Regions from separate parts of the Homo sapiens genome. Here region 2 is linked to region 1. Evidence: fine-mapped QTL for protein levels in blood plasma. Region 1 holds a variant in brackets. A gene starts in the other region. All regions are shown on their forward strands. Region 1 overlaps GCNT2 (glucosaminyl (N-acetyl) transferase 2 (I blood group)). Region 2 holds the start of LRRC25 (leucine rich repeat containing 25).

What was found. PIP is the chance, under the fine-mapping model, that this variant and not a neighbour inherited with it causes the effect. The UK Biobank Pharma Proteomics Project read protein levels with antibody pairs (Olink). The fine-mapping took linkage between variants from a reference panel, not from the people measured, so its PIPs are less certain.
Region 2: LRRC25 starts here. The variant in region 1 is fine-mapped to the plasma level of the LRRC25 protein (UK Biobank, PIP above 0.99).

Annotation. Positions count from the first base shown.
Region 1 is chr6:10,525,857-10,531,172 of GRCh38, forward strand. It overlaps GCNT2 (glucosaminyl (N-acetyl) transferase 2 (I blood group)), which reads left to right. Exons shown (of 5, transcript NM_145649.5): 2 at 1,618-1,804; 3 at 2,775-3,980. The coding sequence starts at 3,056. Among named protein-coding and RNA genes, the nearest start is that of GCNT2, 7.2 kb to the left of the region's middle. The variant C/G (reference allele first, on the strand shown) is at 3,360.
Region 2 is chr19:18,395,413-18,400,785 of GRCh38, forward strand. It overlaps LRRC25 (leucine rich repeat containing 25), which reads right to left and starts at 2,210. Exons shown (of 2, transcript NM_145256.3): 1 at 773-2,210. The coding sequence starts at 1,551.

The sequences.
Region 1 (5,316 bases):
ATTCAAGATGCTTCTATGTCTGCAATGTCTGGAGGGATAGAACTAGGCCAAGAATGAGGTAAGAGTCAAACAAACACCTGATGTAATTGTCTGGATAAATTAGGAGAAAATATGGTAAAAATTACTTGACTAGTTTAGATAAGCATAATTCAGCATTGACATTTTCATTTAATCATTCCTATAGTATTTCATTTGATATGGACAGGGTCTAAAGAGACGTTAAAAGTCAACTAAAAATTAGAGAAATTTTAGTCATTTCAGAAAAGATTGATTTTGTATGCGTTCTGTATTGAAGAAGTGATTTGTTCAAAAGAATTCTGGATAGACGCATGAAAGATAGTTAAGAAAATAGATATTTGGGTTGATTAAATTCTATTTTGGGGGCCCTATAGGCACAACTGGGTGTACCTGAGTCACGCTGTAGAATCTGATTCCAGAAGCAACTGAGAACTGACTCACTGTGTTCTAGAGAATTTTCCCTGTGTCCTTTCTTGTCATCATTTCCTGTGTTCCTGACACCGTGAAATGGGGTTGGCTGCCGTCTCAATGTGTTCGCTTTTAGCTGGGTTAGCGGAAAAATCAACAGGAATAACTCCAGGTTCTAAAGTAGTGATTGTGAAGATAATACCCAAGGCACACCAAGAAGCACTATGGAAAATGTTATTGTATAATAGTAAGTGCAGAATGCAGGATTTAAGCTTGCATCTTCCTGCGTTCTTTTTTTTTTATTAGAGATGGGGCCTGGCTGTGTTGCCTAGGCAGGTCTCAAACTCCTGGCCTCGAGCTCCTCCCGCCTTGGCCTCCCAAAAGTGCTGAGATTACAGGCGTGAGCCACTGCACCCAGCCTCCCCTGTGTTCTTGATAAAATAAGAATGTGTATTTCCTATAGGCAAGAGGTAAATGAAAGTACAGGACGTGGAAACATTGTGTTTAGAAACTATCTACGATATTATGTCGTCTTTGTGATTAAGAAAATGAGCCAGGTGCAGTGGCTCACAGCTGTCATCCTAAAGCTTTGGGACCCTGAGGTAGGAGGATAGCTTGAGGAGTTCAAGACCAGCCTGGGCAACACAGTAAGACCCCCATCTCTACAAAAGAGTAAATTAATTAATTAATTACATTTAATAAAAGTTAGAAGATACATTGGAAAAATTAGGTTTATTGACTGTACCACATTCACAGATACAAATATATATCTCCTACAAATCAGTATTACCTGGAATTTCTCACTAATGTGATCAGGGAAGCAGGGAAATGAAAACTTGAGCATTCAATCAATAAATAGTTGATTGTGCGGTGGCTCGCGCCTGTAATCCCAGCACTTTGGGAGGCCGAGGCGGGTGGATCACCTGAGGTCAGGCGTTTGAAACCAGCCTGCTCAAAAATGGTGAAACCCCGTCTCTACTAAAAATACAAAAATTAGCCAGGCATGGTGGCAGGTGTCTGTAATTCCAGCTACTTGGGAGGCTGAGGCAGGAGAATCGCTTGAACCTGGGAGGCAGAGATTTCAGTGAGCCGAGATCGTGCCATTGCACTCCAGCCTGGGCAACGAGAGCGAAACTCCGTTTCAATAAATAAATAAAATAAAATAAAAAGTTGCTTGTCTACTACATACAGACAATGCTAGGAGCCAGAAACATGAGGAATACATGAGCTCGGCGCCAATGGAACATGCTTTCACACCGGGTGCAGCTAACCACCACATCATACAAAACTCGTCGCTGACGTTTTAGATGTATAATCTGATTGGCATGGACTCACAGAGGAGGGAGTAAGGGAAGAGTAAGAAGATTTCAAAGGAGAGGTAATTGTGTCATTTATTAGAAGTATGAGTGTGGGGTAAGAGATACGTGTGTATGCATGCGTGTGTGTGAACGGACTTCTTGTTTAGTACCATTTTGCTGCTGCTTTACCACCCCAATCTGTTCCTGGACACGGCGATGGACTCTGTATATGTTATCTCATTTTATTCTCACAATTGACCTCTGGTGGTAAAATTATTCTCATTTTTTACAGATTAAAAAAAAAGCCTCCTTTAAAGCATTTGTAAATCTGGACATAAGAGCCTCTCTCCTAAAATTCAAGACTGAGATGCTCTTCTCTCCTTCCTCTAAGCATCAGGGTTCTCTGTCTGCATCCTATGCGGACCAGGGCAAAATAAACTTGAAATTCACTATGTTAGCCTGTATGCAATTTTGGGTGATGATGGGCTATTGGTCGTTTTGTTGTTTTAAAAAAAGAAGTTAGCCTTTATTCATCCGAGTGCCACAGTCACTTTGTGCAGTAAGTTAGGTGGTGAGGTAAGCTTGCTAATTAATGGGCATTTTAAAGGACTTTACCCAGCAGCAGACAAAATTAAGCCCTGGAAAGAATTTAGCCCAGTAGCCAGTCATATGCCATGTCGTATAGCATACCCAGCCAATGGGGAGAGCGAGGTGTGGCTGTGGAAAAAGACAGGGTTAAGCAATTTTTTTAAAGCACTACATATTTATTGATAGAATATCTCTCCAGGCAGTATTCACATGCTTTAAACTGAAGCTCGTAGCTTGGCAGTGCAGTTTAAGCAAATAAACTCAGGCTGTTGAACACAATGATTAACAGGAAGCAGGGGAGGGGACATAGTTACTAGACTCTGGCCGGGACAAGAGGCTGAGGTTAAGGTCTTAGAGCCGATGACTTGCAGAATGGTCACCTCACCCACTTGTAATTTCATGGTGGGAACAGGTGGACCCCCTGGAATCAGAACCTCTCTGAGGACATCTGTTTTTGTGTAGACACAGGTTGCAGGTTAGCAGGAGAACAGGCAAGCCAAATGCAAAGGAGCCACTTCAGAAATGTGTCACAGAAAAGTGAAAATGCAACCTAGTGGTAAGTGAAGAGGGGAAGAAGAAAGAAAAAGGACCAGAACCGTGAACTGAAGGGACAGGGAACAGCCAGACGAGAGCTTCAGCCATCACGAGGATGATTTCGGAACCTGGAGAAAATGTAAGTTAAATATATCTACACTCTGATCCTATCTCAAGAGAGAGATATTTTACTCATTTCCTGGTTGTGAATGATGGGCTCTTGGAAGCACTGTCTTTTTAGCGCGTCTCTTATCTCTGCCCTGATTTTTGTATTTGTTTACAATACTGAGTTATGGGAGAATAAACGTTTTCTGAGGGCAGCTCTGTCCAATGCTTCACTGTTAGCAGAAGCCTGTCATCAGATTTTTGAGGGGAAAGTTTTTTACCCAACAGAAAATGCATTGAAAACTACCCTTGATGAAGCTACCTGCTATGAGTACATGGTTCGAAGCCACTATGTAACAGAAACACTCTCTGAAGAAGAGGCTGGGTTCCCTTTAGCTTACACAGTGA[C/G]CATCCACAAAGACTTCGGCACTTTTGAGAGGCTCTTCAGGGCGATTTATATGCCCCAAAATGTCTACTGTGTGCACCTGGATCAGAAGGCGACGGATGCCTTTAAAGGTGCAGTGAAACAGTTACTCAGCTGCTTCCCAAATGCTTTTCTGGCTTCCAAGAAGGAGTCGGTTGTCTATGGGGGGATCTCCAGGCTCCAGGCTGACCTGAACTGCCTGGAAGACCTTGTGGCCTCTGAAGTTCCCTGGAAGTATGTCATCAACACCTGCGGGCAAGACTTTCCCCTGAAAACCAACAGGGAAATAGTTCAGTATCTGAAGGGATTTAAAGGGAAAAATATCACCCCCGGAGTGCTGCCTCCTGACCACGCTGTTGGACGGACTAAATACGTCCACCAAGAACTGTTAAACCACAAAAATTCCTACGTGATTAAAACAACAAAATTAAAAACTCCTCCTCCTCATGACATGGTGATTTACTTTGGCACGGCCTACGTGGCTCTCACAAGGGACTTTGCTAACTTCGTCCTCCAAGACCAGCTCGCACTTGACTTACTCTCCTGGTCCAAGGACACCTACAGCCCCGACGAACATTTCTGGGTGACACTCAACAGGATTCCCGGTATGTACGTCTCTTAACTTTTATTTTTACGAATAAACACTGCATGGTCAATACTAAATAAGTTGCTTTGAAAAGAGTGGAAAAAATGGGACAAACTTCTTTACGGTTTTAAATGTCAAATTAAAAAAAAAATTTCATCTGTAAAATGGTAAAATGGAGATGTGTTATATCACCCACTCTTGTGAACCGCTCTGTTCACAGGACAAAAGACCGAAGGAACACTGGCCATATAAATAAAAACGTGACCGAGCACAGTGGCTCAAGCCTGTAATCACAGCACTTTGGGAGGCGGAGGCAGGTGGATCACTTGAGGTCAGGAGTTTGAGAGCAGCCTGACCAACATGGTGAAAACCTGTATCTACTAAAAATACTAAAAAAATTAGCCAGGCGTGGTGGTGCATGCCTGCAATCCCAGCTACTGGAGAGGCTGAGGCAGGAGAATCGCTTGAACCCAAGGGGCGGAGGTTGCAATGAGCCAAGATTGTGCCACTGCACTCCAGCCTGGGTGACAGATCGAGACTCCATCTCTAAATAAATAAATAAATAAAATGTAAACCTTATTCTCCTTTAAGCGCAACGCATTTAAAATCAGGAATATGTATTATAAATAAAATTTGAATGACAATTTGAAGATTTCATAATATTTTTGTCTCTGTTGAAGCTCCCATCCTTTTGAAATGGGAGCAAGATACAACTTTCAAATTTTTTATTTGCAAGCTCTTTTCTGGTCTTGAATCAAAAATCTAAAGCATGGCCAGGCATGGTGGCTCACGCCTGTAATCCCAGCGCTTTGGAAGGCTGAGGCAGGAGGATCTCTTGAAGCCAGGAGTTTGAGACCAGCCTGGGCAACATAGTGAGACACTGTCTCTATTTTTTTTCAAGAAGTTAAAACAAACAAACAAACAAAAAAACCTTATTGCACCTTAAAGATTTCTAGGCTGAGCGCAGTGGCTCACACCTGTAATCCCAGCACTTTGGGAGGCTGAAGTGGGCGGATCACAAGGTCAGGAGTTCGAGACCAGCCTGGCCAACATGGTGAAACCCCGTCTCTACTAAAAATACCAAAAATTAGCCAGGCGTGGTGGCGCATGCCTGTAATCCCAGCTTCTCAGAAGGCTGAGGCAGTAGAATCGCTTGAACCCAGGAGGCGGAGGTTGCAGTGAGCCAAGATCACGTCATCGCACTCCAGCGGAGACTCTGTCTCAAAAAAAAAAAAAAAAAGATTTCTAGACTAGTACCTCCATTTTATAGATGAAGAAACTTCAATGTGATTACATGATGTGCTCAAATCCCACAGCTAGTAAGCAAATGCACCAATTATAAACCAGGTCTCCTA
Region 2 (5,373 bases), not on the chromosome of region 1:
GTAGGGCACCTCTTTAGTATCTCATGTGTGTCATGGGGAAATGGGGGGCTGTCCCCACTCTATGGAGACAGAAATGGAGGTTCAGAGACAGCCTTGGGTCACATGGGACCTGGGCCTATGCTGCTGACCGCCACCGCGGAGCCCCAACTCCGCTCAAGCAGTTGCCTCCTGTCTCCCCATCCTTGGCCGCCAGAAACTGGGTTTACAGGTCATAAGGGGGGGAAGTTTGTCCCATATATGGGAACTCACTTAATTCTTACCCCAACACACTATGATGGGGGCTGTAATTCTCCCTCATTTTACTTTATTTTATTGATTTTATTTTTGAGATGGAGTCTCACTCTGTCACCCAGGCTGGAGTGCAATGGCATGAACTTGGCTCACTGCAACCTCTGACTCCCAGGTTCAAGAGATTCTCTTGCCTCAGCCTCCTCAGTAGCTGGAACCACAGGCGCCCGCCACCACACCTGGCTAATTTTTGTATTTTTAGTACAGACTGGGTTTCACCGTGTTGGCCAGGCTGGTCTCAAACTCCTGACTTCAAGTGATCCGCCTGCCTTGGCCTCCCAAAGTGCTAGGATTACAGGTGTGAGCCACCATGTCCAGTCCTCTCCCCATTTTATAGGTGAGGAGACTGAGGCTCAGAGAAGTAAAGCTACTCACCTAAGATCCCACAGCCTTCAAGCGGCAGAGCTGGGATTTGAACCTCGGCCATCTGGGTGTGGAGCCTTATTATTCACCACTTTGGCAGGTGTCTCAGTGGCTTACTTACCCTTGTTCATCCCACTGGTGCTCGGCTGCTGGCTGGCCCACAAACATGTTCTCATAGTCGGGAGTGGAGGGGCAGGATGGCACGGCCACTTGGGGCTTGGGGGCGCTCCGGCTGCCGTACCGTGGCTGCAAGCCTAAACCGGGCTTGGGCCCATCCTGAGCAGCCCAGGGTTTGTTCAGCTCCCGGCTTCTGGCCACTCGGCATCGCCAGAGTCTCCAGGCCAGCACAGGGCCAGCGATGGCAAGTCCAAGAAGCAGGCACCCGCTGACCACCACTGCCCCGATAGTTGCAGAGGCCAGGCCAGGGGCGCAGCTGACCTCCAGGAAGGCAGAGAGGTTGTGCTGGGAGCTGGTTGTGTCCCAGCAGAGCAGAGGCTTCTGGCCAGAGCAGTTGTCTCGGCGGATGTCGTGCCAGGACTCCAGGGCACAGTTGCAGTCGGCCTGCAGGTCAAGGTCACAGCGGGCGGCCAGCGCCCCATCCACACGAGACAAGGGGTTGCGTAGCACGTTCAGGACCTCAAGCTTCTGCAGGTGGGCAAAGAAGGTCACTGGAAGCTCTCGCAGGCCGTTCCCAGACAGGTCAAGGAGAATCACGTTGCTGGCCCGCAGAGACTGGTTGTGAGGCAGGCTCAGGCTGAGGCCACTGAAATTCAGGCACGTGGCACTGAACTCCGCGTTCCAGTCCACATCCGCGGAGGACACGGTGCACGACGGTTCTAGGCTGTCTGACTCCCGCAGCAGCAGCGGCAACAGCAGCGTCCATGCCAGGGTGCCCCCCATTCAAGCAACCTACGTAGAGACACCGGAATCCTAGCCCTGACCTCAGCCCTGTGGTCGCCCTCGCCTCCACCGCCAGTGTTTATTATTATAGCTCAGACCAGCTCAAGCCGCTTCTGAAATGGTAAAACGCAGCCCCAGTCTGGTCGCCTCCTTTGGCTGGTGGGCTGCCTCAGTCTCCCCTTCTGGGGAATGGGTAGATAACCCCAGTGCTTAGCGGGCTTGGAAGGCGAGGAGGAGATCCGGGCCAGTTAACCCCTTCTTCTATGTCCTGAACATTTGGGGCGCCCTCGTTGGCCAGGACGGGACCCTATGCAAATAAGCGGTTGCCTTGGAAACGGCCCCGCCCCCTGATCACGCTCCCGGTATCTCCCAGAACGGCGGGTCGCTGGGAAGTCCTGGGATAGGGTGGAGTGGGGGCTGCTGAAAGGGTCCTCCCAGGTCTGGTTTGCAGTCCCTGCACAGGTGCAAGTTCTAGAGCCTCAGTCCTACCTTTTGGGTCCCACTGCCACGCTTTTGCCTCTGCGATGCTGGAAAAGCGACGGCGCCCAGAGGCTGCGTCCTGGCCCACCTGGACACGGGGGCCGCAGCGGCCACGGCCAGCACCGTCCGCAGCGCTGCTGGGGTCGCTGGCGTTCCTCTGGCTCTGCACCCAGCGACTCAGGGGGAAGAGGAACTGGTGTCTGGGTGGAGTGCAGAGGGGAAGAATGAAGACAGAGATCCGCCCCCTTGCAGGGCCTCAAGGTTCTCACCAGAGGTGGATGGAGGGCAAGAGGGAGGGGTGGACCAGAGTCCCGCTTCCCTCTTGCTAGAACCCAGTGACTTCATGTCCTCTATTAGCACCCCAACCGACTGCCACCTCATCAACTCGCTTCTTGATCTCAGCTTGGCTGGTTCCCAGCTCATGCAGTCATTTATTCATTCAACAAGCATCACCCACGCTGGGCCCCCAAGAGGCCTCAGCCCTGACCAGGTCCTCAAGGAGCTATCTTAAGAGAGGACAGAGCTGGACATAGACACTCCTAGTCCCATGCAGTTAAGGAAGGTCCAGAGGGAAAGACAGGGTCCTGGAAGGCTTCCTGGAGGAGGAGGCATTACAGTTGGGGCTTCAACGCATGAGTAGGAGTTCACTAAGATTCCCCAAACCTATCATTGGCTCTCCAAGCTCCTCCAAGCCTCTCCCACTGAGTTCTTGCACAGTGGCACCTCTATGCTGGAGGGGACAGTGAGGAGGGCTCCCAGCAGCTTGGGAAAATGTAGCTGGCTGGGATAGCATGGTTAGGAGTGGAGAGGATAGAAGGAATTGGTGGTGGGGGAAGAGGTCCATGTGGAGCCAAGGCAGGTGCGTGGGCAGAGGGGCACTGGCTCAAGAAGTCCCTCTGGAGTGAGCCTGGTGTCTGGGGTGGGCAACTTGGGGAGGAGGCTGAGGTCCCAGAAGCAGATGGGGGCCTGAGGCAGACTGGAGGGGTAGTAGTGACAAAAATGATACTGAGGAGGGGTGGGCTGGGAGAAGGCCTCACCTGAACCTGGTGTCAGGTGGACCAGGTACAACCTATGCCAGCCCGACTCACTGTGCCACCTTAACTGCGTGTGACACCATGTCCACAGCTGTCAAATGCACAGAGGCTTCTCCGGGATCTGGGAGGCTGGGAGTCCACTCCCCCACGTTTTCCCCTCTTTTCGGCCTCTGTCCTTCACATCGCCAAACTCCAAGAAATGGTCAAAGGCTTTGAACGGAGACCTTGAAGAAAAAGCGGGAAACTGCTTTTCAACATGTCCAGAGATGCTCATTCTTGCCAGGTGCAGTGGCTTACACCTGTAATCCCAACACTTTGGGAGGCTGAAGTGAGCAGATCGCTTGAGCCCAGGAGTTCGAGACCAGCCTGGCCATCATGGTGAAACCCCGTCTCTACTTTAAAAAATACAAAAATTAGCCAGGTGTGGTGGTATGTGCCTGTAGTCCCAGCTACTCAGGAGGCTGAGGCAGGAGAATTGTTTGAACCCAGGAGGTGGAGGCTGCAGTGAGCCAAGATCACTCCACTGCATTCCAGCCTGGGCAACAGAGTGAGACCTGTCTCAAAAAAAAAAAAAAGTTCACACTTAATAAGAAAACTGCAAATCACAAACTGTTTGTCTTCACCAATCAAATTGGCAAAAATCCAACAATGCAATGACATTCTGTGCCAGCCAGGCTGTGGGGTGCGTCCATGGTGTAGCACTGGTGGAGGGCACCCTGGCACAGGCCACCGGAATGATAAACTCATGTGCCTGCTGACACAGCAAGTCCACTTCTGGGAATCCCTGCCTGAATATTTGCATGTTTACAGTGTGAACTGACTAACGAATAAAAAAATGTGGCTCAGCCTGGACGTGGTGGCTCATGCCTGTAATCCCAGCACTTTGGGGGACCAAGGTGGGCGGATCACGAGGTCAGGAGTACCAGACCAGCCTGGCCAACATGGTGAAACCCCGTCTCCACTAAAAATACAAAAATTAGCTGGGCATGGTGGCACGTGCCTGTAATCCCAGCTACTAGGGAGGCTGAGGCAGGAGAATCGCTTGAACCCAGGAGGCAGAGGTTGCAGTGAGCTGAGATCATGCCACTGCACTCCAGTTTGGGCGTTAGAGCGAGACTCCATCTCAATAATAATAATAATAATAATAATAATAATAATTTAAAAATTAGCTGGGCATGGTGGCTTCAGCCTGTAGTCCCAGCTACTTCAGAGGCTGAGGTGGGAGGATCCCTTGAGCCCAGAAGGTTGTGACTGCAGTGAGCCGTGATTGTGCCACTCCACTCCAGCCTATGCAGCAGAGCAAGACCCTATCTCTAAAAAATAATTTAAAATAAATGGCTGGGCCGGCCGCGGTGGCTCATGCCTGTAATCCCAGCACTTTGGGAGGCTGAGGTGGGCGGATCACCTGAGGTCCAGAGTTTGAGACTAGCCTGACCAACGTGGAGAAACTCCATCTCTACTAAATACACAAAATTAGCCGGGTGTGGTGGCGCATGCCTGTAATCCCAGCTACTTGGGAGGCTGAGGCAGGAGAATCACTTGAGCCTGGGAGGTAGAGTTTGCAGTTGAGCCGAGATCACGGCACTGCACTCCAGCCTGGGCAACAAGAGCAAAACTCCATCTCAAAATAATAATAATAAATAAATAAATTGGCTAAAATGTTCAATTTTATGTTGTGTGTATGTTGCAGGTTTGTTTTTTTGAGAAGGCAAAGTCAGGCGTGGTGGCTCACACCTGTAATCCCAGCACTTTGGGAGGCTGAGGTGGGCGGATCACAAGGTCAGGAGACTGAGACAATCCTGGCCAACGCTGTGAAACCCTGTCTCTACCAAAAATACAAAAAATTAGCTGGGCGTGGTGGCATGTACCTGTAATCCCAGCTACTCGGGAGGCTGAGGCAGGAAAATCACTTGAACCAGGGAGTTGGAGGTTGCAGTAAGCCTAGATCGCGCCACAGCACTCCAGCCTGGTGACAGAGCGAGACTTCATATAAAAAAAAAAAAGAGAGAGAGAGAGAAGGCAAAAAGATGCTCCAGGCTCAAAGTGATTCATTGCAGCATTGTTTGTTACATGAAAAAAAATAAAATGGGCCGGGCACAGTGAGTCATGCCTGTAATCCCAGCACTTTGGGAGGTCAAGATAGGAGGATCGCTTGAGCCCAGGAGTTCAAGACTAGCCTGGGCAATATGGTGAAACCCCATGTCTACCAAAAAAAAAAATTTTTATATATATATATAGATAGATATACACACACACAAAAATTAGCTGGGAGTGGTGGCACATCCTTACAGTTCCAGCTACTCGGGAA